Homo sapiens: one gene and its partner. The protein of the gene in region 1 interacts with the protein of each later gene in a biochemical or structural test. Each region holds a gene or a part of one and is shown on either strand. Other genes may lie near its edges.

Evidence for each region.
Region 2: the proteins of BBS4 (region 1) and TOM1L2 form a complex in vitro, tested with the Homo sapiens proteins (one study listed by BioGRID).

What each region holds. Positions count from the first base shown.
Region 1 is NC_000015.10:72,719,290-72,731,412, reverse strand, and holds part of BBS4 (BBSome complex member BBS4), read right to left. Parts: intron 8,625-12,123; exon of another isoform or gene 8,620-8,624; coding exon 8,566-8,619; intron 6,886-8,565; coding exon 6,758-6,885; intron 3,474-6,757; coding exon 3,419-3,473; intron 1,798-3,418; coding exon 1,729-1,797; intron 109-1,728; coding exon 1-108.
Region 2 is NC_000017.11:17,860,042-17,872,164, reverse strand, and holds part of TOM1L2 (TOM1-like protein 2), read left to right. Parts: intron 1-2,691; coding exon 2,692-2,825; intron 2,826-5,240; coding exon 5,241-5,289; intron 5,290-5,745; coding exon 5,746-5,869; intron 5,870-9,316; coding exon 9,317-9,434; intron 9,435-10,613; coding exon 10,614-10,689; intron 10,690-12,123. UniProt on the Homo sapiens protein: Acts as a MYO6/Myosin VI adapter protein that targets myosin VI to endocytic structures. May also play a role in recruiting clathrin to endosomes. May regulate growth factor-induced mitogenic signaling.

The DNA of each region.
Region 1 (12,123 bases):
CCAGAGTGGAGGACTTTCTGGAACAGCACAAGCCACAACTCTGTATTTGGTGAGGGCAACATCAAAGTCCCCGTGGGTCTGCATCATGCTGCCTGCTGCCAAGATGGCCTGAAAACATGGCACAGAGAAAGTCATTCAGTCATTCCCAAAAGGCTGTAGCAGTGGGGCAGCTTTCCTGAGTCTATACTCAGCAGGCCCATCAGCATAGATGGGACTGGAAAATTTCTTCCAGGGACATAAATATATCCAACCTATTGGGACAAATGTTCCTGAGGAATGTCCTTGCACTCTACACTGTGGCTCTCTGGCACAGCACAAAAAAAAAAAAAAAAAAAAAAAAAAAAAAAGATAAAATGTTACTTGCTTTACCCATCTGTTTCCTACTTCTAGCCAGGAAAGTCAGTATTTCAGAATGAATACCAGAGCCCTTTAAGTAAAAACTTCCTTTAATCTGTTCTCTGCAGCCCCTATTTGGTATACCAAGTGTTCTAGATACCTGAAATACACCTGTACGTGGCTACTTAAGGTAAATTTCTTTCTACCGTAGAACAGAGGGCGAGTCAGCTTTAGGCTTCATCAGCCCAGCCCTTTCATTTCTCTAAGGAAAGGTATCAAGGTGGGAGCTGACAGTCTAATGTTACTTCCTAAATCAGAATTCAGTTTGTATCCTTTAATAAACAGCTTGTCTTGCTGCATCTCCTCAATGATGTTCATCCATTTGATGCTATTCCTTCTCATTCCCAAAGTCACATCTAGAAAAAAAGTTGTAGTATCAAATCATTAGGACTCTAGAAGTCATTTCAACATAATTATTGTTTCTTTTTAGAGACAGGGTCTCTGTCACCCAGGCTGGAGTATAGTGGTGCCATCATAGCCCACTGTAGACTCAAACTCCTGGGCTCAAGTGATCTTCCCTCTTCCACCTTCCGAGTGGCTAGGACTACAGGTGTGTGCCACCATGCCTGGATAATTTTTTTTGTAGAAATGGGGGTCTCACTATGTGGCCCAGCCTGGTCTTGAACTCCTGGCCTCAAGTGATCCTCCTGCCTCAGCATTCCAAAGTGCTGGGATTACAGGCATAAGCCACCATGCCCAGCAGATTTATTTTTTTTATTTTTTATTTTTTTTTTTTTTGAGACAGAGTCTCGCTCTGTCACCCAGGCTGGAGTGCAGTGGCGCGTGATCTCAGCTCACTGCAAGCTCTGCCTCCCGGGTTCACGCCATTCTCCTGCCTCAGCCTCCCGAGGAGCTGGGACTACAGGCGCCCGCCACCACGCCCGGCTAATTTTTTTGTATTTTTAGTAGAGACGGGGTTTCACTGTGTTAGCCAGGATGGTCTCGATCTCCTGACCTCGTGATCTGCCCACCTCAGCCTCCCAAAGTGCTGGGATTACAGGCGTGAGCCACCGCGCCGGGCCGCAGATTTATTTTTGACAATAGTTGTGGAGGCATTGCTAATTTCCTAAGTAACACATAAGCTTTACTAGCACTATGATCTGCCTTCTGCAGGGGTTACACGTCTATTATAACAAATGTGCACTTTTAGAAGATAAGTAGAGCATACTTGACACTATTTTCAAATAAGAAGAGCCACCTTTTATTTATATTTTTTCTATTTCTCAGGTATCCAAATTTAAGAAGCTATTCCTTTGCTTTCCAGGGTCAGATCACCTCTAGGAGCAGTGGGACCGTCTATATGAAGGCCAGAGCCTTCACAGCCTGTAATACCTTGTAGTTGGTAGGGTCATAAGTCAGTGCATTGCCAAGATGTTCAAATGCCTTCTGGTAAATGCCGAGCTTGGAAAAAAAGCAAACAAGACAATTTACATCAGCAAGGAGACGGCAGTTAAAAGAGTCTGGCCAGACCAGGCGTGGTGGCTAATGCCTATAATCCCAGCACTTTGGGAGGCTAAGGTGGGTGGATCACCTGAGGTCAGGAGTTCGAGACCAGCCTGACCAACATGGAGAAACCCCATCTCTACTAAAAATACAAAATTACCCAGGCATGGTGGCACATGCCTGTAATCCCAGCTACTTGGGAGGCTGAGGCAGGAGAATCGCTTGAACCCAGGAGGCAGAGGTTGCAGTGAGCCGAGATCACGCCATTGCACTCTAGCCTAGGCAAAAAGAGTGAAACTCCGTCTCCAAAAAAAAAAAAAAAAAAACAGTCTGGCCAACCTCACCCAGAACAGAAATGCTCTGGCTTTTTTGAGTTCTCTTGACTTTAAAAAAAAAAAAAAAAAAAAAAAAAGCAGCTACAGTTACCAGATAATAAAGAAAGAAAACTAAAAATCCCCAGTCATGGTTTTCCTTCTATTTTTGTTAATTTGTCACCTGATAAGGTCAAAGTATCTATTTGATAAGAACCATCTCTGCCACACTAGTACTGTTCCACATTAATGCCTCTTTGCAGGAAATGAGCTGGGTATCCTCATCTCCCGTGGAGCCAACCTCCCAAGCCAAAGCCCAGGAAGACCCAGGGTTAAGCTCCTGATTCCTTTTAAAGAAAAATGAAATAGACATAAAGGCCACCACAGAGGCAGGGCTGGAGGCAGAATCAGCTGACCAAGGAACTTGGCAAATGTGTATATTGGGGAAGAGGGAAAAGCCCCTTGGATACCTGGGCCCTGGGTCCTCAGCCAGAGAATCAATGGAGCTAAAAGAATCCCATTCACATTCAGGAATGTTGAGGGGACAGAAAACTTCTTATTCTAGATAAAAGTATACTTTGCCTTCTCTCTTTCCAATAAGACTCTGGCTGGGAAGAAAGATCAAAAGAAATGGCTTTGCCCCAAAGCCCTAAGTGCTCACTTGTATCTGTTTCTCTCCTCACAACAAAATAACAGCCTCCAAGACCAGAGTTATTTCTCATATATGCTCTTTCCTGGATAGCATAAGAATTTTTTTTTTTTTCTGAGACAGGATCTGGCTCTGTCACCCAGGATGGAGTGCAGTGACTCAATCTCAGCTCACTGCAACCTCTGCCTTCCGAGTTCAAGCAATCTTCCCATCACAGCCTCCCAAGTAGCTGGGACTACAGAAGCATGCCACCATGCCTGGCTAATTTTTTTATTTTTTGTAGAGACAGGGTCTCACTATGTTACCCAGGCTGGTCTCCAACTCCTGAGCTCAAGTGATCCACCAGCCTCAGCCTCCCAAATTGCTGGGATTACAGGCATGAGACCACACCCAGCCTAGATAAGAATTATAATTGCACTAGGCTAAAATAGAATTGCTTCCAATTTAAATGCAGAAAATTAATTCCTTTAGCAAAGAGTATCGAATAGAGAGAGTGTAGTTCATGAACTTTATATGACCTTTAATAAAATAAATATCAGAATGCAGGAAAACCACCATACACACAAACCCAAAACCATTTCTAACATCAGTGCATGAATGAGTACAGAGTTTTCATTACCTGTAAGTAGAGTAATCCTAAAGTTGTAAGAAGCTCTGTATTTTCTGGTGAGAACCTGCAACATAGAGATGCTCAGAGGGAAACAAGATGTAGATGAGAAACACGAAGACACATGCACAGTAATATGCCCTCGTGCAATACTTGACAGACCCCACTGAGCCTCTTCCTCCCCGTGGAAATACCTGAAGGCAATTTGGGAATTGCCATCAAAAGTAGGTCATCTCAACCCTGGTGATAAGGAGAACTGCTCAGCAAGAAAAATGAGGCTTAGAATTCAGATTCCTTTCTTAGGGTAAAAGTCCTAAGAAAGAACCTATAGAATGTTTTGCATGACTGTCTTGGTCACACTGATAAAATTAAAGAACAATGCTTTATAAACCAAGTCAGCCTAGAACACACACAGTTTCACCAGTCCTCTCTTGTGGAATTTTTTTTCTATCCTCATTGTGCTCACAATGCCAGGCAGCATAATTTTCTATGTAATTTAGGATCCCAAGGCCCCTAATGCTGTTCTCTCCACTTAAACAAAGAGCTATACCAAGTAGCCAAACTAAACAAAAGAAGGAAGATACATACCAATCCTAGGAAAGAAGGTGCTACTGACCTTTGGGAGTAAACACTGATGTAAGTAAAATACTCACATCAGGGATTGCCTGCTCAATCCCTCACTAGTATTTGTCTTTGTCACAAAACCAAGGCAACACTGAGTTGAGATGATCTGACCATAGGATCATCAGACAGTTTCAACAGTAAAACACCAAAGGGCTATGAACAATGTCTTCTGCTTCTAAGGAATGATATAGGGCACTGGTTACCTATAGGAAGACCTGAACCAGAAGATGCAAAGCCCCAGCCAGGGGAGGCCTGAGCTGACCAAACAGAGCTTTCTCAATTCAACTGGGAATCCGCCTTTCACTTTCTGCCATAATAAACATCCACTTTGATCACTTCCCTCCCCAAAGCCAGGTAACTTCTGTAATTCTAGCAATATTGGCTTCCCCACTACAACATGACTACTCTCTTCAAAGCTGTAGGTCATGAACAATGGTCTCTATCTTCTCAGTAAGGCTTCAGATTTTAGCTGTCCACATTTCTCCCTTAGGAAATTTAGTGACCAAAGTCCTTGATCAGTTACTGGAAGAATGTTCCCCTTGGGATTTATGTATGCTATTCTCAAAGAGCTAACCTCTAGAAGGCAGGGGTCAGGGATCAGGGCTACTACCTAGCACCACAGAGGCACTGAACATGTTACATGGCTCCTTACTACTTGCCCAAATATACAGCCTCTTGATGACAAAAGTCTGTTCTGTAGCTTAACAAACCAAGGGATTTTTCTGTTTTAGACACAAAATATGGTTGAAGAAAATTCAGAAAGCAGTGCTGTGACTGATATAACCAGAAAATTTACTACCATGGTAGAAGACAAAGATGATTAACAAATTAATAGAAATCTAAGTTTAGTTCAGAATCTAATTATTAGGAATAATAAGCCTTGAACCACAGACCAGACATTCTATTAAGGGACCAAACAAATGAGACAAGGCATTTTGCTACAGCTATCCCATTTAAAAGTAACAACACAAGGCTGGGCGCAGTGGTTCACGCCTGCAATCCCAGCACTATGGGAGACCAAGGCAAGCAGATCACTTGAGGCCAGGAATTCGAGACCAGCCTGACCAACATGGTGAAACCCTGTCTCTGCTAAAAATACAAACATTAGCCAGGGGTGGTGGCGTGCTCGTGCAGTCCCAGCTACTCAGGAGGCTGAGGCATGAGAATCGCTTGAACCCAGGAGGCAGAGGTTGCAGTGAGGCGAGATCGCGCCACTGCACTCACCCCTGGGCGACAGAGCGAGACTGTTGAAATAAATGAAAGGAAGGAAAGAAAGGAAGGAAGAAAGGAAGAAAAGAAAGAAACAAAGAAAGATGGGAATGGGAGGGAGGGAAAGGATGGAAAGAAAAGAGAGAAAAAGGAAGGAAGGGAGAGAGGGAGGGGAAAGGGGAAGGGAGATGGGAAAAGGGGAAAGGGGGAAGGGAAAGGAGGAAGGGGAAAGGGGGAAGGGGAAAGGGGGAAGGGGGATGGGGAAAGGGGGATGGGGAAAGGGGGATGGGGAAAGGGGGATGGGGAAAGGGGGATGGGGAAAGGGGGATGGGGAAAGGGGGATGGGGAAAGGGGGATGGGGGAAGGGGGATGGGGGAAGAGGGAAGGAGGAAGGGGAAGAGGAAGGGGGAAGGGGGAAGGGGGAAAGGGAAAGGGGGAAGAGAAAAGGGGGAAGGGAAAACGGGGAAAGGGAAGGGGAAAACGGGGAAGGGGAAGGGAAAATGGGGAAGGGGGAAAAAAGATACTGGTCTCATGCTAATAAGGCCAAATGTTTTGTTTTGTTTTGTTTTGTTTTTTACTGAATCAGGAGATTTCTGTCCCTAATAATATCTCTGAAAACAGAAGATCTGTTATTAACATATGATACCAAAATGGCAGACTGTCGGCCAACTCTTAAATCTGTTATTTCCTTCTTCTTGAGTGCATGTCTGCCCACTTCCCTTGTAACTATCATGTAGTTTTGAACCATGGAATGTAAGCAGGAACGATGTGTGCAATTTCTGGGTCATTTAAAACTTATTACCAAGGCCAGGTGCAGTGGCTCACACCTGTAATTCCAGCACTTTGGAAGGCTGAGGCAGGAGGATCGCTTGAGCCCAGAAGTTTAAGACCAGCCTGGGCAACACAGCAAGACCCTGTCAACACAAAAACAGTTTTTTTTTTTAAATTAGCTGGGCATGGTGGCACATGCCTGTAGTCCCAACTACTTGGGAGGCTGAGGTAGGAAGATTGCTTTAGCCCAAGAGGTTGAGGCTGCAGTGAGCTGTGTTCTCCACTGCACTCCAGCCTGAGTGATGGAGTAAGATCATGTCTCTCTCTCTCTCTCTCTCTCTCTCTATATATATATATATATATAGCCAGATGCTTATTCCATGCTTAGCTTCCCAAACCATCTCCTTCCACCACAGCCTGGATGTGGATGTTACATTCAGCATCAACCATGCAGGTAAAGACAACAGCCTAAGGAATGGTGAGTTAATAAGGAAGAAACCTGGATCCCTGGCTGACCTTGTAGAATAGAGCTGCCCAGCTAACCTAAAGCAGCAGTCATCCTTATAGGTAAGAAAGAAACACAGTCTACCTTATTGAAGCTACTGGGAGCTCTTAAACTTCAGCTTAACCTTTAACTCATACAGTAAGTAATTAATCAAACATATTCACTCTTTTAGGCTTGGGAGTTCACATATCCACTCAATTTTTTTAGTTTCTCACTGTTTTAAAGGAAACAGATACACTTACTCCACTGCTTTCTTGTAGACTTCAATGGCCTTGTCCAAGTCTCCCTCCAGCAAGTGGATCTTCCCCAGCATTATATAAGTCAGATCGTGCCTATTAAGATTCAGGGCATTGTGCAACTGGTCTTGTGCCTGACAAGTTTAACAAAATAAAGAAAACCAAATCACTACCACTGAACGAACTATACCTTTATATGGCTAATGTAAAGACACTTTCTGCTGTATTGACATAGGAACATCACATTTCAGCAAACAGCCCCCACTACCCAAAGACCAAAACATACCAAAACTGTCCTTGTTGAAAAGACAGCTGGCAACATGGGATATCTGCTTCTGGAGCCACTTGGAAGAATTTATACAAGACGATTAATCTTTCTGAATGTTTTCTGCCTGATATTCACACCTATGACTCATACTTCATAAGTCAAAAGGGCCATCATAGTACAGTGTAGAGTACTACACTAAACTAAATCCCAGCTGTAACACTGACCAAGTGCACAACCTTCCCTATGGTGGGCCAGGTTTCCCCATCAATGTGATGATAAATGAATAAATAGATTGTTCTCATTTATTCACCCAACTGCTTGCTGTTCTAGATGCTAAATATATTTGAGTTTATAAAACCAACTCCTTGCTCTGGAGGAGCTTACCTTCTCCTAGTAAACAAAAGGGCTTTGTTTAGTCATTCACAGATTCAACAAGCATTTATATAAATGCCAGGTATTGTATTTGCCTAGCCTGTTAGCTGTACAGTAAAATCTAAATATATTTCTTCTCAGCACAGATCCAACCAAAGACAAATCCTTCTTTTCCCCTGACTCAGAATAATCCTGTGAATAGAAATGTGCCTGTTTGAAATTGTCTCTGAAGAGAAAAATCTCCTAACCAAGTATATAAAACTATAGATCCATCTACAAAACCTAAGGGGCCCACTAAATGTATTTTATGTATATATATTGTTATCTCAGGAGAAAAGTTACTTTTACACCCCAACTGCTAATGTGCATATTTTTTTTCACACCAGTGTGGGATACTAGTTACACCAGTCTGCAAATTGACACAAACTAAACATTGTCAAATGGGTACTAACCAATTCAGATTCTCAGTCCTGGTGGCATCGGAGAAAGGAGAATAAAACTTCACAATCACTAACTGTGAGCTCTATGAAGGAAACTACCCAACGCTCTCATCACTAAGTTTTAGAGCTCTCAGTAATTTTGTCTACTCCTCAATTATGATATATACTTTTTCTTACCTGAGTACCAAATTTGAGGTAAGCTCAACTTGTCTTCTCTGATATAGGAGTCTATAGCTTAATCACAGTGAAATATAATTTCTCATCATGGAAAATAACTATAAAATTAAAACTGAAAACTCAGAAATCAGATCCACTTAAAATTTAAAATTTATTTTCAATGACCCTAAAAACTAAGTTGCCGTCAGGGCATGGAGATAGCTCACATGGTCATGATCACACCTTTAAGACTTAAGGGTCCACTTTTTGATATGTATGTTTTATTAAGCATCTGTTTCTAAACTGGGAAATTTAACTGGAGGTAGAGAAAAAGAAGAAAGGAGAAAAACTGCCATTCCCTCATATTTCTAGAACTTTCCATGTTCTTATTACAAGCAGAAAACAACAGATGAATAATGACAAGTGAGAATTAAAACAGAAAAAAATGTATAAAGGTACTTTCAATTTTCAGTTCCAAAAACCTCTGCAAGCACTAGGGATAATACCAAATGAGCAATGTAACAACTTCTGCAACAAGTGCACCCTCAGTGAAATCTATCACCACTTCTATAAATTACCTTGTTGAACTGCTTCAGGTATATGTAGCAAACTCCTAGGTTATGGCTGATCTCCTAGGCTCATAAAAAAGAAGGAAAACAACTCAGGTGTAATTCCACAGTAAGTATTAGAGTGAAACAACAGACATCTAGAGATTGTTATTGCTCGGCAAGGTTTAAACTTTAAACTATGCATTACAGTCAGCTTTTTATTAGAGTTCATACTCAAATTAATTGTTAAAAATAAGTTCCTCAACATAAAAAAATACAGATTATAAGAAATAAAAGCAGAATAAACAGGTGATCTTCCTGGATCTATGGGGAACCCTGGGGCACATACCCAGCCCATCCCCATACCTTTTTTCTTTAAGAGTTGCCCATCACCCATACCCTTTGCTCCTTCTTCTCAGGAGAGACTACCCACAGCCCCTGCTGAGAGGGCTGCTAGCCACACATTTCCGCCCTTAAGGCAACACAGTTGGATAGTGACACCTGACACAACTGAAGTCCTTTCCCTAGGAATCTGGAATTGGAAGAGAGCTAGTTAGTTACAAGTACTAAATTTACTAGGTGATGTGAACTTGAGGACTGACAGCGCCACCTGGAGTCTGCTGTGATGGAATACATGTAATTGGAGCCATCTGCAGAAGTCTAGAGCTGACATGGGAAAACTATGGTCCATGGGCCAAATCCATTCCCTGCCCTTTTTTATAAGTACAGATTCATTGGAACACAGACACAACTATTGTTTTTGTATGGCTCTTTTGCATTAGAACTGCAGAGTTAAGTCGTTGCAACAGAGTCTGTATGAAGCTATACAAATTAAAATATTTATTAACTGGCCCTTTACAAAAAAAGTTTGCCAACCTTTGATCTACAGAAAGAAAAGATGAAGCAGAAAAGGCAGAGTAGCTACCTTGGATGCTGAAGCGTTCCAGTTCTGCTTCACTAAAAGACCAACCTGCATCTCTTGATACTGTTTTATGGACTCTCAAATTCCTTTATAATAAACCTCCCTTTATTTAAGGTAGCTTTGGAAAAGGAGAAAGCAAGGGTAAGGAAAATGCTCTTGGGAAACATAGTAAGAACTACCCTATTAGTAGTGGAGATGTGTCCCTGTCTGAGGAAACATGGACCCCCAGGCTCAGAGATAACAACTGATTTAATGTTTTCCAAGTCTCCAAAAATAGTAAAAACAACAAAACAGCAACCATTGGTTGAGCACCTACTAACATCAGGCTTTATGCCAGATGTTTTCATATATGTTACTTTAATTTTCAGCAAACCTGCAACATAGTTATAATCTTTCCAATTTTACAGATAAGGAAATTGAAGCTCAGAGAGGTTGAGTAGATTACCTAACTTAAGACAGAGAGTATTGGGATTTTTTTTTTCTTTTTTAGTTCTACATCCTAGGGAGAATTTCAATCATACGTAAGTGCAGACAGAATTAGGTACTAATCATCCTGTCCCAACAACCATCCAATCCACACCCCATCTACTCCCACAACTTTTGTAAGCAAATAACAGCCCAACGTTTTATCCACAAATGTTTCCGTATTTATTTCTAAAAGATAAGGCCTTTTTCTTAAACTACCCACATCGTCACACTCGAAAAAAAGTAGTGACTGCTTGATATTAGATATTCAATTACGTTAAAATTTCCAATTATCTCACAAATGCCGCACATTTAAAAATTTTTTTTATTCAATCACAAATCATGTCCATATTATAGAACATTGGGATTTGAACTCAGGCCTGCTTCCAAAACTTGTATACTGCCAACTTTGTCATGCTATAAGAATGCATGCATGGAGAGAGACAAGGCAGAAATAAAGCCTTTCTTGTCCTTTAAATGTCCTGCTCTACAGTAGGAATTGTTAAGGTAGGTAAGTAAATAGATGTCCTGAAGGCTAACCTCTGACCTTTTAAAATCTTTGACATAGATAGTTGAGAAGGCAGCAATATACCTTTAACAAACTAACTGCAAAAGAAATTTGGAAAGGGCAACAGAACAAATCAGAGTCAAATCCTATCTTTCAGGAGGTAAGGGAACCCAGCAGACATCCTGCAAAGGCAGTTGGTACAGTGGAAAAGATCACAGTCTTAAGACGAGGAATCTTAGATCATCCTAGATCACAGGTCTGAATTCCAGTTCTGGCTCAGCAACTACCTCACTGTAGCAACTTCCATCTTCCAAAGCCTTAGCTTCCTCACTTGTCAATGGGGGAAATTCTCCCTACTTAACAGAACTGTTCCAAAAGTCAACTAAGATAATGGCAGGAGGAATTACTATTCCCCTGTTGCAGCAAGACTGTGGAATACCCTGATGAGTCCAAGAAAGTAGGGCTACAAGGTTGTTTCTTTTTTTTTTTTTTTTTTGAGACAGGGTCTTGCTCTGCTTTCCATGCTGAAGTGCAGTGACACAATCACAGTTCACCGCATCACTGCAGCCTCAACCTCCTGGGCTAACGTGATCCTCCTACCTCAGCCTCTAGAATAGCTAGGACTACAGGTGCACACGACCACTAATTTTTATTTTTTTTTCCTAGAAACTGGGTCTCTATGTTGCCCAGGCTGGTCTCAGACTCCTGGGCTCAAGTGATCCTCCCCACTCAGCATCCTTTTAAAGTGCTGGTATTACAGGTATGAGCCACCATGCTCCAGCTACTATAAGGTTTTCTACAGGTACTTATGAAATATGTAGGGTAGGTAAGGGCTATTAATAAAAGTAAAATTCAAAATCATTAAAATATTCTAAAAAGAAAATAAAAATGCCATGAAGGGGAAAATTTTAAAGAAAAATTTTAAAGTTAAAAAAAAAAAAGGTGGTGGCTCACACCTGTAGTCTCAGCACTTTGGGAGGCCAAGGTGGGCGGATCACAACGTCAGGAGCTCGAGACCAGCCTGACCAACATGGTGAAACCTCATCTCTACTAAAAATACAAAAATTAGCTGGGCATGGTGGCGGGTGCCTGTAAATCCCAGCTACTCAGGAGGCTGGGGGAGGAGAATCGCTTGAACCCAGGAGGCAGAGGTTGCAGTGAGCCAAGATTGAGCCACTGCACTCTAGCCTAGGTGACAGAATGAGACTCTGTCTCAACAAAAAAAAAAAAAAAGAATGGCTGTTTTGTGAATGATCACATCTACTAGTAACAATGGGATGGTTATCCCAAGTGAGTCAGTAATACCAAATGAGCTCTTTCAACCAACTGGATAGATTAAGAAATACGTTCCATTCCCCCTGTGACCCTGAGCTCTCCTGCTTTACCTCTTCCCTATCTCCCTCTATGGGTTCTCTTCTTCTGCTCAGTCCTTCAAAATTGCTTTTTGATGGCTCACACCTGTAATCCCAGCACTCTGGGAAGCTAAAGCAGGAGGATCACTTGAGGACAGGAGCTTGAGACCAGCCTGGGTAACATGAGACCTCATTTCCACAAAATAAATTTAGCCAGGCATGGTGGCTTGCACCTGTAGCCCCAGCTACTCAGGAGGCAGAGGCAGGAGGATCACTTGAGCCCAGGAGTTGGAGGTTACAGTAAGCTATGATCACCCCACTATACTCCAGCCTAGGCAACC
Region 2 (12,123 bases), on another chromosome or scaffold:
TGAGTGTTTCCCCTGTGTTGTTGGTTTTCCTGTGTACAGTAATTGTGACTGGGTTTTGACCTGTGAGTGTCCATTGGCGCCTGTGGCCATTATTGCCTGGCAATCCAGACCACGTCTGGCAGGCCCCAAGGCCCAGGCAGCTTTTTGAGAGCCCCTCTCCTGCCTGGCCTGGGGACATGAGCCATTCACAACAGAGGAGAGTGGGTATTTTGTGGAGTTTTCTCTTTACTGGATAGTAGTGTCCCCTGCAATTAAGATCCCGTATTCACCTCTTATTAATTCTAGCACTTGTCTGTATGTTTATAAGTGCTTACTGCTGGTTCAGTGGGGCCTGGGATGAGTCCTAGAGAGGGAAAATTAGATCCTGGATGAACAAGAATTCCCCATTCTCTGAGTGAAGAGTGCTGAGAAGACTGAGAGTATGTGGATAACTGAGCTGGTAATTTGCGGGGACCAAGAGTTCAGAATACTTTATATTTTATTTTTATTTTTTGGAGACAGGGTCTCACTCTGTTCCCCAGGCTGGAGTGCAGTAGTGCAATCTCTGCTCACTGTAGCCTCTGCCTCCCGGATTCAAGCAATTCTCCCACCTCAGCCTCCTGAATAGCTGGGATTACAGGTGCATGCCACTGTGCCCAATTTATTTTTGTATTTTTTCGTAGAGATGGGGTTTTACCATGTTGGCCAAGCTGGTCTCAAACTCCTGACCTCAAGTGATCCGCCTGCCTCGGCCTCCCAAAGTGCTGGGATTACAGGCATGAGGCACCGCACTTGGCCTCTGAATACTTTTTTTTGAGATGGAGTCTCGCTCTCTCTCCCAGTCTGGAGTGCAGTGGCGTGATCTCGGCTCACTGCAAGCTCCGCCTCCTGGGTTCACGCCATTCTCCTGCCTCAGTCTCCCAAGTAGCTGGGACTACAGGTGCCCGCCACCAACGCCCGGCTAATTTTTTGTGTTTTTAGTAGAGACGGGGTTTCACCGTATTAGCCAGGATGGTCTCGATCTCCTGACCTCGTGATCCATCCGCCTCGGCCTCCAATAGTTTTGGGATTACAGGCGTGAGCCACCACACCTGGCCCCGGCCTCTGAATACTTTAGAGTCATTAATTAATTCTCTCAGAAGTACTTGGGGAGAGCCTCCCATGTGTCATGGGTACCAGGGAAATACCTTCTCTGCCCTCAAGGAGCTTCAGTCTAGACGGGAGGGCAGATAAGAAGCCCAGCCCCTGTGTGAGTGCTGTGTTGCAGGATACCAGGGACATGCAGGGGGGATGCCTTTGATTCCCCACTGGCTGATTGACCACCTTGGTGATGTGTTCAGCAGATGATTACTGGGCTTTTTCACTGTGTGTGGCTCAGTGCGGGGCTTGAGGGCATCCTTGAGTGGATAAATGGTAACACCCCCTCAAGAGTTTATGATGTGGTAGGAAGGAAGACCCTGTAGCCAAGCTAGCAAGATTATGAGACAATATGAGGAACTAAAGAGAGATTGCCGTGTCTCCTGTGAATAAATCAGTTACTTCTACCAGAAACGGTTTCAAAATGAAGTCGTTTTGAGGCTGAGCTGTGAGAAGGAGAGACTTATCCTTCATGTCTTATCCCCTTAACTCACTGGCACCCTCCAGTGCCCAGGTAGGTGGGAACAGCATTTCCCTCTGCTTTAACCCTGTATGGCACACTGGGACTTGTAGCTTTGGTCACATGCTTGGGGGCCAGCCTGGCAGTGTTGCCAGCTCCCTCCTCTGTAGCATCCTCAGTCTGGCATCGAGATGGCAAGGGGCCTGGCAGGAATTGACGGAGCTCTGTAAGCAAGTTTGAACAAGGGCATCAGTAAGTCTGCTGTTCTGGAACAGGGAAGGCTCATGGAAGCCAGGCCATAAAGTGCTAAGGCTCTGTCGTCACGGGGATGTTGCTTCTAAGGGTAGAGAGGGCTCCAGGGGCAACCGGGGGTGTGCGAATTTCCTCTTTCGGCCAGCCAGGGAGCTGCCTGGGCTTCTGAGGTCTCGGCAAAGTGGCAGACGTGCCACCAAAATATACCTAATGCAGTCATAAAATACACTCCTGCTGTTGCTGGAAGTGTAAGTAAACTGATGTCATATTTTTGGAGGGCCTTTTACTATTACTAATTAATGTTATAAATGACCATACCCTTTCACCTAGAAATTTCCCTGCTAAGGAACCTGTCCTATGGAAGTGCTTGCCCAAGTGCATATGCATGTGTGTGTACAGGTGTTCATTGCTGCATTATTTAGGTTGGCCACAAAAAGAGAGACCACAATCTAAATGTCCAGCAATAGAAGAATGGCGAGATACATTATGAAACACACAGAAAGGAATGAGGCAGTCTGTACCAAGTGATGGAGAACGGTGTCTGGAATATTTTGTTGAGAAAAAGCAATCTGGAAAGAATCACATTTTAATATTTTTTAATGATTTGTACAAGCATGTACTTGTATACATACAACAGTATGTCTGGACATTTGTCTGCTGAAAAAGTACTTGTTTCCTCTGCGGAAGGAGGGGCAGGCAGTGAAGAGGGAACTTCTACTTTGAATTCGGCACATGTCTGGTTTTATGAACAAGCATGTACTCCTTTTGTGACTTTTAAGAATCAGTACAAATTTTTTCAAAGGAGATAGAATGTGACGAAAAGCACACCCAGCAGGCTACCCAGAGGTGCATGTGTTCCCTAGGAGCTCAACAGGACCTGTCGGGCCATGCAGCAGCGCATCGTGGAGCTCATCTCCCGCGTGTCCAATGAGGAGGTCACCGAGGAGCTGCTGCATGTGAACGATGACCTCAACAACGTCTTCCTTCGATACGAGAGGTGGGAGCCGGATTTCTTTTTTTTTTTTTTTCCCTTGAAAAGATTGTTGCCATAACAGAGGGATTTCTTTCATAAACAAAGGAAAGAGAGGGAGAGGGAGAGAGATTAGAGTTGGAAAATACTCATCAGAGATGCTAATTTGTTCCCGGCTGACAGGAAAAATGCTTCTTGTCCTCCTGGGAACTGAGCAGCAGAAGCAGCAGGAAGTTGACGTGCAGAATTAGGCTCTGCCCTTTGTAAGCCTCAGGCTGCTCTGCCTTTCCCCACTGCCCCGCCACCCCCAGCCCCAGGGAGGGGTAGCACTTGGGGGCCTCTGGGCCCCAGAGCTTCTGCACCTGCTCCTTTGATGATCCTTTGAATTTGAAAAGGATTAAAGGGAAAAAAAATCTCTAGTAAGAAAAAGGATTTCCTCTTTCCCATCTTAAAAAAAAAGAAAAAAGAAAAAAAGCTTTTCCCTTTGCAAATGTCAATGTTATCTAGAGCATTCAGGGGAAGCAGGCGGGTGTAAGTGCCGGAATGCTGCTGCTTAGGGAAGCGTGCACACATTCATTCCAGTTCTTTCTGCAGCCAAATCATTTTTGAGTTTGAGGTAACAAACCTGCAAATTCTTTTTCATTTCCAAAGCCTTCCCTCAGGACAAAGTCCAAAATGTCTTATTTAGACCTAGTTTTAAATAGGAGGAATAATGGCAAGCACAGTTCCCATCTCATCACCTGATGGGAGCACACTGGGCTTTCATGAAGGACTCAGCATAAGGACCAGAAAGGACCATGATCAGGCCAACCTTTTCCCCTTAAAGATGAGGCTTGAGAGGACAGGACAGTGGCTTGAGTCCCCTGCAGATTTAAGGTCCTGGTCCCCTCTGCCGCACCAGCTGACTCACAACCTACTGCTGGATTCATCAGGAGGACAAGGACCTGGCATCAGTTAGGGTGAGTGGGACAGATGCTTGCATTTGCGTTACCCTTTGGGGACCTAAAGGGTGATTTTGTTATGGCTGTCACAGCCTTGGGCCTTGTCTCATCTTTTGACTACGGAAGTACACACCAGTGGCTCTGTGCCCACCTGACAGGTGAATAAACCTCTGCAGTAAGTGTGGGGGCATCCCCAGGACCCCCCAGTGCATCAGTTGGAGAACAGGAGCAGATATAAGGGGACCTGACTCCCAGCCCGAGGCCCCTTTGTCTTGCCATGTGATTCCAGTTTCTCCATGGTAAATGGGCTTGGGTTTAACCTATTAAACCTATTTAAGCCCTGCTAGAAAGCATAACAGGAGCTAACTAATATGAGTATTTTCACCCAAGAGTCTCCCAGTCCAAGCATTACACATAATTCAGAGGCAAAGCCTGGGGCTGGTGGCTGGAAGTGCTATCCTGGTTAGAGTGTCTTTGATGATACTCATTGTTCATTGAAGATGAGTGTGGGAAAGGTACCCCAGGATTAAAATTGTTTCAGATGTATTAATATTCCTGTTCTCCTTGTAGACCACTGTTGAAAAAACACACAAGTCGTTTTTAAAACCACAGTGGACACTCACTGCCTTACCCAGATCATTCCTCCTGGGGATCTCTTTCTTGTCACCAGCTGCTGACCCCAGCAAGTTGGGAGACAAATCTGGAGCAGCATAACTCACTAAAGCTGGGTGTCTAAGGCTCCAGCTGGAAAAAGTCTCTTAGCTACCGCTGCCCATGGCATTTGGAGTTTTTAAATACGATACAGAACATAATCTATTCTGCCCCACCCCAACACACACCTCATAACTACTCTTCCGTTCCCCACCTGACAGGAGGATGACCTGGCCTTCGACAGTTGCTCAAAGCCAACTCCCCCTGCACTGCCTGACTGGGTGCAGAGGACACTCACTCCACCCTCCTAGCAGTCCTTCGATGACTGGCCCAGGCCTCTCTGTAGCAGCTACTGGCGAGCATTTCCCCAGGCCGTAGCCAGGGCCATGCGTCCGCCTTCCTCCTGCTGGTGCCCACCCTATGTGTGCCCCACCCCCTTTCCCCAGAGGCTGAGTTGGGAGCATGTTAGGAACACTAGCTAGTTGCTCCTGAACACAGCCCTATGAAATAGGGAGTCTGCAGCTCCAAGGTAAGGTGGTTAAGCCACCCTCCCTCCAGGGCCCAGGTGTGTGAGGAGAGGCTGGGGACACTCACAATGACCTCCATGATGGGCCAGCCACCACCCCTTTCTGATGCCCACTCTGGGTGCTGGGTGAGAAGCTGATCCTCTCAGGGGGAGCCCCACACAGAGGAAGCCGTGGCAGAGTTGATATATGGTTTCACTCCCTAGCCCCCAGGTGGGACTGGCTGGTCTTGGTCCCAGGGATTCTTCATAGGACTAGTGAGCACCCCACAGGGCCATATCACAGGCATCCTCTCTCCTTACTTCTGCTTTCCCTTCCCCTGTTAGGTTCGAACGATACAGGTCTGGCCGATCCGTTCAAAATGCCAGTAATGGAGTAAGTATTCCTTCAGAATCCTGTCATCTCCTGAGGCCAGACCTACCCCTCCACGTTTTGGAGGCTGGAGAGACCTCCAGTTTTTCTAACTGGTTTTGAAATATTTGGGAAATTGAAGAGGCAAGCTCTGGTTGATGGGATACTAGGGCAGAGCTAGCAGGCACCCCTGATGGGAAGGTGGCAAGCAAGCCCTAAGTTTGCATCTCCCAGGACAGTCACTGTTGACTCAGCAACCCCTCCTTCTAGTGGGGACGGGGAGGAGGCAGTGAGCAGGGCTCACTGACATCCAGGCCCACCATGGACCTGGAAGGCAGGTGGGGGAAGTGGCCTTGCTTCTGTACTAGAGCAGCGCTGATACTTTTCTTCTTGGAACCCTGCATAGTTGCCTTGCCAGCTTCTACCTCAGAGCCTGACTCCAGGGTTCTGGGGCTTATGGCCAATCTCATGTTCTGACAGGTACTGAATGAAGTAACCGAAGACAACTTAATAGACCTGGGGCCAGGGTCTCCAGCCGTGGTGAGCCCAATGGTGGGGAACACAGCGCCCCCATCTTCCCTCTCCTCCCAGCTTGCAGGCTTAGGTGAGTGTCTCACAGGGACAAAAGGGCCTACCTACTTCCTACCACTGGCCTCCCTTGCAGGCCACCTCTCTTTCTTTCTTGGAAGACCCAAAGAGAGTCTTTTGGGAAATACATGTGAAAGTGTATTCCTGAGTCCTAGCCAGTTGTACCACCTTACTTTCAATTCATACCTTTTTTCCCCCTAAATTTGAAGTTTAAAATCTATGTTGGAAAGCAGGGATGGGGGAAATTCCAATGAATTAAAGAAAGGTCACGGCCGTGCGCAGTGGCTCACGCCCGTAATCCCAGCACTATGGGAGGCCGAGGTGGGTGGATCACCTGAGGTCAGGAGTTTGAGACCAGCCTGACCAACATGGCGAAACCCAGTCTCTACTAAAAATACAAAAATTAGCTGCGCATGGTGGGCACCTGCAATCCCAACTACTCGGGAGGCTGCGGCAGGAGAATCACTTGAGCCTGGGAGGTGGAGGTTGCAGTGAGCCGATATCGCATCATTGCACTCCAGCCTGGGCGACAGAGCAAGACACTGTCTCAAAAAAAAAAAAAAAAAAAAGAAAGGTCACCTGCCATGTTTTATATGGAACATTCCCTATGATTGAAGTAATTTCCTTTTCAATATTAACTAGGTCAAGGCCGGGCGCGTAATCCCAGCATTTTGGGAGGCTGAGGTGGGTGGATCACTTGAGGTCAGGAGTTTGAGACCAGCCTGGCCAAAATGGTGAAACCCCGTCTGTACTAAAAATACAAAAAAATTAGCCAGACTTGGTGGCGGGCACCTGTAGTCCCAGCTACTCAGGAGGCTGAAGCAGGAGAATTGCTTGAACCCGGGAAGCAGAGGTTGCAGTGAGCCGAGATCGCGCCATTGCACTCCAGCCTGGGGGACGACTCCATCTCAAAAAAATAAATAAATATTAACTAGGTCAAGGAGGGCAGATAGGTTTCAGCTCTTTGGCTTCTTGGAACACAGGTTTGAGGAGGATGCTGAAGCCACATCAGGGCTTAGAAAAGTCTGTGATTGATTGATTGTCAATATCTACAGAGGGCTTGGAAACAGGAGGTAGCAGCACTGAAATATTTGCTCTCCTTGAACTTTACCATCAGCCTAAAGCAGTCCATTGTCTGGAACTTAAAAGAAACTCACCACTTTCCACAGTTCATTTAGTTTGTACATTCAAAGTGTGTATATGACTCTAGCACATTGGTTATACTGGATGATACCAATTTATAACAAATGAAATTATAACATTGAAATAATAAGCATGGCCCTCAAAATTCTTTCCTCTGTCTTGCTTTTCTGTTTTCCTTTTTAAAAAATATTTCTCGTCTACTTTCCTTTCATTTGACTTGAGTTAAACTTCTAGTGGCTATCAGTTGCTGTAATTGTAGCTTCTCAATATTTCGTATATTTGTAGCCACTATTTCTGTATCAGAACAGATGTCTCTGCCTTCAGTCAGTCCAGCATATATGACTGCCAGATTTAATACTTAAAATTCAAAGTGTAACACCGGTAATCCCAAGACTTTGGGAGGCTGCGGCAGGTGGATCACCTGAAGTCAGGAGTTCAAGACCAGCCTAACCAACATGGCAAAACCCCATCTCTACTAAAAATACAAAAATCAGCTGGGCATGGTGGTGTGTGCCTGTAATCCCAACTACTAGGGGGGTTGAGGCAGGAGGATCGCTTGAACCCGGGAGGCGGAGGTTGCAGTGAGCCGAGATTGTGCCACTGCACTGCAGCCTGAGCAACAGAGCAAGATGCCATCTCAAAAAAGAAAAAAAAAAAAAAGCCGGGTGCGGTGGCTAACGCCTGTAATCCCAGCACTTTGGGAGGCCGAGGCGGGTGGATCACAAGGTCAGGAGATCGAGACCATCCTGGCTAGCACGGTGAAACCCTGTCTCTACTAAAAATACAAAAAATTAGCCAGGCGTGGTGGTGGGCGGCTGTAGTCCCAGCTACTTGGGAGACTGAGGCAGGAGAATGGCGTGAACCCGGGAGGCGGAGCTTGCAGTGAGCCGACATCGCTCTACTACACTCCAGCCTGGGTGACAGAGCGAGACTCTGTCTCAAAAAAAAAAAAAAAATCAAATTGGATTCTGCTACCTCTCTTCTTAAAAAAGGTATAGTAGGCCAGGCATAGTGGCTCACGCCTGTAATCCCAGCACTCTGGGAAGCCAAGGCAGGCGGATTGCTTGAGTCCAGGAGTTCAAGACCAGCCTGGGCAACATAGCAAAACCTCATCTCTACTAAAAATACAAAAAAATTAGCTGCGAGTGGTGGCACACACCTGTAGTCCCAGGTACTCAGGAGGCTGCAGTAGGAGAATCTCCTGAGCCCAGGAGGTTGAGGCTGCAGTGAGCTGAGATCATGCCACTGCACTCCAGCTTGGGCATCCAGAGTGAGACCCTGTCTCAAACAAAACAACAACAACAACAAAAGTGTAGTGTCCACCAGGGGTGGTGGCTCACACTTGCAATCTCATCACTTTGGGAGGCCGAGGTGGGAAGATCACTTGAGGCCAGGTGTTTGAGACCAGCCTGGGCAACATAACGAGACCTTGTCTCTACAAAATAATTTTAAAACAGCTGGGCATGGTGGCACATACCTGTAGTCCTAGCTACTTGGGAGGCCAAGGTGGGAGGATCACTTAGCCCGGGAGGTCAAGGCTAAAGTGAGCCATGATCATGCCAAGAGAGTAAGACTCTGTCTCTTTAAAAAAAAAAAAAAAAAAAAGTCTAGTGTCTTCCCACCCACTCCTTTACCTGGCATTTGAGGTATTACCAGCCACTTCCTCCACAAATTTTTTCCTGTGAGCGTTGTTCACTTCACACACCCTGGCCTCCAAACCCCGTGCCTTTTTATCTGCCTTTCCCCTTCTCCCCACAGCATCCTCCTCATTATCCTTACAGACCCACTGTTGTGTTGGTTTTGAGTCTTTCCTGATGTCTCAAGCCAAGCACTGCTGTGGCTTGTCTCTTGCCCACTCTGACCTTCTTGAAGCTGAGGACCATATCAGATTCAATTTGGTCTACTCAAGATCTAGCTCTGAACATGGTGGGTACCTAAGAAATATTTGCTGAATAAATAGATGTTCCAGGTCCTTGGACATTGTGATTGAGTTAATGAGGAGCCCAAGCGAGAAGGGCATTATGGAAAATCTGCAGGTGCACTGGCGCCAGTCCCTGCCTTGTCACCCCAGCAATCTCTTTTTTGTTATGACTCTTTCGCCTCCTTGAGCAGTTTGAGGGGCAGTGGCTGTTCTGTCCCCCATCTGGCCCGCCCTGGCTCCTCCGGCATGTGGTGCACTGGGAGTACCAAGGAAAGTCCCGCCCCACCCTCCCCATGGAACCTAAACCCACCTGGCTGGCGTCCTAGCTTGGGGGCCCTTCATCAGATCTACAGTCTACATTTTGTTCTCATCTGCCACCCATTTGTTTTGTTGCCACAGACTTGGGGACAGAGAGCGTCAGTGGCACCCTCAGTTCACTCCAGCAATGTAATCCCCGTGACGGCTTTGACATGTTTGCCCAGACGAGAGGAAACTCCTTGGCTGAGCAGCGCAAGACGTATGTGGGGCCCCTTTTAGTGGCTCTCTAAAGATATTGGGGGGATTGACCCATGCCTGGTCACAGGCCAGCACAAAAAGGCATTTATTTACCATGTCCAGGACTGCCAGGAACTTTAAAGCATGGCTGTAAGGACTTGGCATTAGATGCAGATACTGAATAAATACCAACTGCCCACCTCCTCCCCCACCCCCCCAAACACACACACACTCTCCTGCCCTTGGGGTTGATTGGAGTGTGATTTCTCCTGTCAGTTGTAAGAGACAGCTTTTCTCTTTTCTCCCCATGCTGCTGCTGCTGCAGACACCACCCTGCCTGGCCCCTCATCCACAGGAGAAGCTTGGAAGCAGGAGGGTGCAGCCATGCAGGGTGAACCCATTCCTTACAGCGAGATTTTCCTGACTAAAATAAGTGGTCAGAGCAGAGGCTCCTCTGATAGCAGCTCTGGCTAGGATGAGCCATCTGGAATTCAGGGAGTTGATTCCAAAAGAGAGAATCTCCTACATCTCAGGGAGGCACTGTACATGTTTTGAGCTTTCTGTTCAGCCTAAAGGCGGGTGAAACACACTTTTTCCCACCTTTCCCAGGGACCCAGCATCTTGGTGCACTCAGCACCCTGAGTCCTGCTTGGGGCTCAGTAGGGTAAGCAGAAACCCAAGGTCCCATGTACCCTTCACCACCAAAGGTTGATTGTAAAACAGATATAGCTAAAGGAGTCGGAGAGTGGAGGAAGACCTCCCATAATCAGTGACAGGCCCGGGTCCCAGAGACCACCTTCCCTGTCAAATGCCACTGAGGCTGCTGCTAATAAAATAAGAATTAATGTTACTTTGTGTTTATCTAGTCTTCCCTCTGAGGAGTATTAGGGCACTTTGGACATTCAGCTTCAGAGATGCTCAGTATTGTTACTCAAGAGAGGGATGTTGAGGTGCACAAAATCTGAGATCGCAGAGATTAGTGGCTCAGCCTGAGCTAGGACCCAGGCCTCCTAGCATCCACTGCAGGGAGACAGACAACATGAGCCCTTAGCCTCTGCTCAATGTCAAGGTTTCAGGAAATGTTTTTCCAAGGACATCTGAGGAAGGACCATAGGATAGAAGTGATTACAGGCCACTACCCCATCCCTCCATGACCACTGGAGGAAAATGAACTCTGCTTGTGCTGCTTCTTCATCTCCAGGGTAACCTATGAGGATCCTCAGGCTGTCGGAGGACTTGCTTCTGCACTAGACAATCGAAAACAGAGTTCAGAAGGGGTAGGTCTTTAACCCTGTTTTTCTGCCTGGAGTCTTCTGGAGGGAAAGTCAGGTGGTTTGGCAAAGCTGGCTGGGTAATTCAGCAGAAACTGGCTTGCACAGGGGGCAGGGACACCCTGGGGGAGAGACCCACGGGGGACACCCCGTGGAACCCAGGTAGTGCCTCATTGAGTCTTCACCTCACCCCGTGAGATGAGGCCACACATGAGCTTCCCAATCCACCCAAGAGAAAACAGTCCCAGGCAGGTGGGAGACAGGCTGAGACACCCAGAGAGCAGACAGCAAGCTGGGGTTCCAATCCTAGGATTAGTGTCCATTTCCAGAACCCCTGCTGTTCCTACCACAGTGGCCCCAAGTTCTCCAGGCACAAGTCTCCTATGGTCACCTGTTACAGTGCCACAGGGTGGTCAGTGCTCTGATAAAACCATGGCCTGCACCAGGAAGGACAATGCTGACCCGAGCCACATCTCTGATGGCCATTTGTCACTGGCCTAGCAGAGCAGTACCAACCCCATTAGAAGGCACTCGAGAGCCAGGGTTTGTTTACAGAGCTGGTGCAGTTGGGTGGTGGCTGGGAGGGTGTCCTGTGGCGGTGAGGGGGTGCGGCACAGTGAAGTGGAGGGAATGGTATGTGTTTGGGCCTCCCCAAACATAACCATGCTTTCTGTACAATTTCGGATTACTGAAGGGGAAAGAATGTGTGTCTTAATGCTTCTCATGAGATTTTTGTTTTTGCCTAACAAAGAAATGTGTATGAATGCACGTCTGTTTGCAGGGGCAGGGAGGAGGAGGGTCCTTGGAATAGCTGCCGACAACAGCTGGAACTCCTGTCTGGGTCCCCCAGCTGGGCTAGAGAGGGCAGTGATCATCTGTCCACTGGACAGGAAGGTTTGCAAAGGGCTGTTTGCTTACTGGGTCCCAATTTTTAGCCTTCTGAAGCCCCTGTCCAATGGGCCCAGGCAGGCAGCAGTGCTGGTTTCCACGGGATGCTCCTTCTTGGGGGAAGGGACTCACTCCCTCATCCATGCTGGTCTTCACCTGGTGGATCTGAGGGCATGCATCCCTCTGCACTGGTCACCAGAGGGCGCAGAAGAGCCAGCTGGCTGCCTTGGGTCCTCAGTGCCGTGCCTTTCCACAGGAGTGGGCAGTGCCACCTGAACCCCTGAGACTGGGACACTCAAAATCAATGCAGTGCTCATGGCTCTGATTCTCCCATTACTTAGAATGTCCTCCCACCTGCCCCAGCGTGGGCATTAGAGAGCCCAGCCAGGGGCCTACCAGGATACTGCCTGGTGAGGACATCCCCTCCTCGTGGCCAACCCTGGCCTGCACTGGGAGCAGCCCTGTTGTGCCCCTATGAGGCTGACCTCATTTGTCCCTCACTCTGGGTCCAGGACCTGCCTTGTCCATGCCAGGGTGTGTCCTGCTGCACCC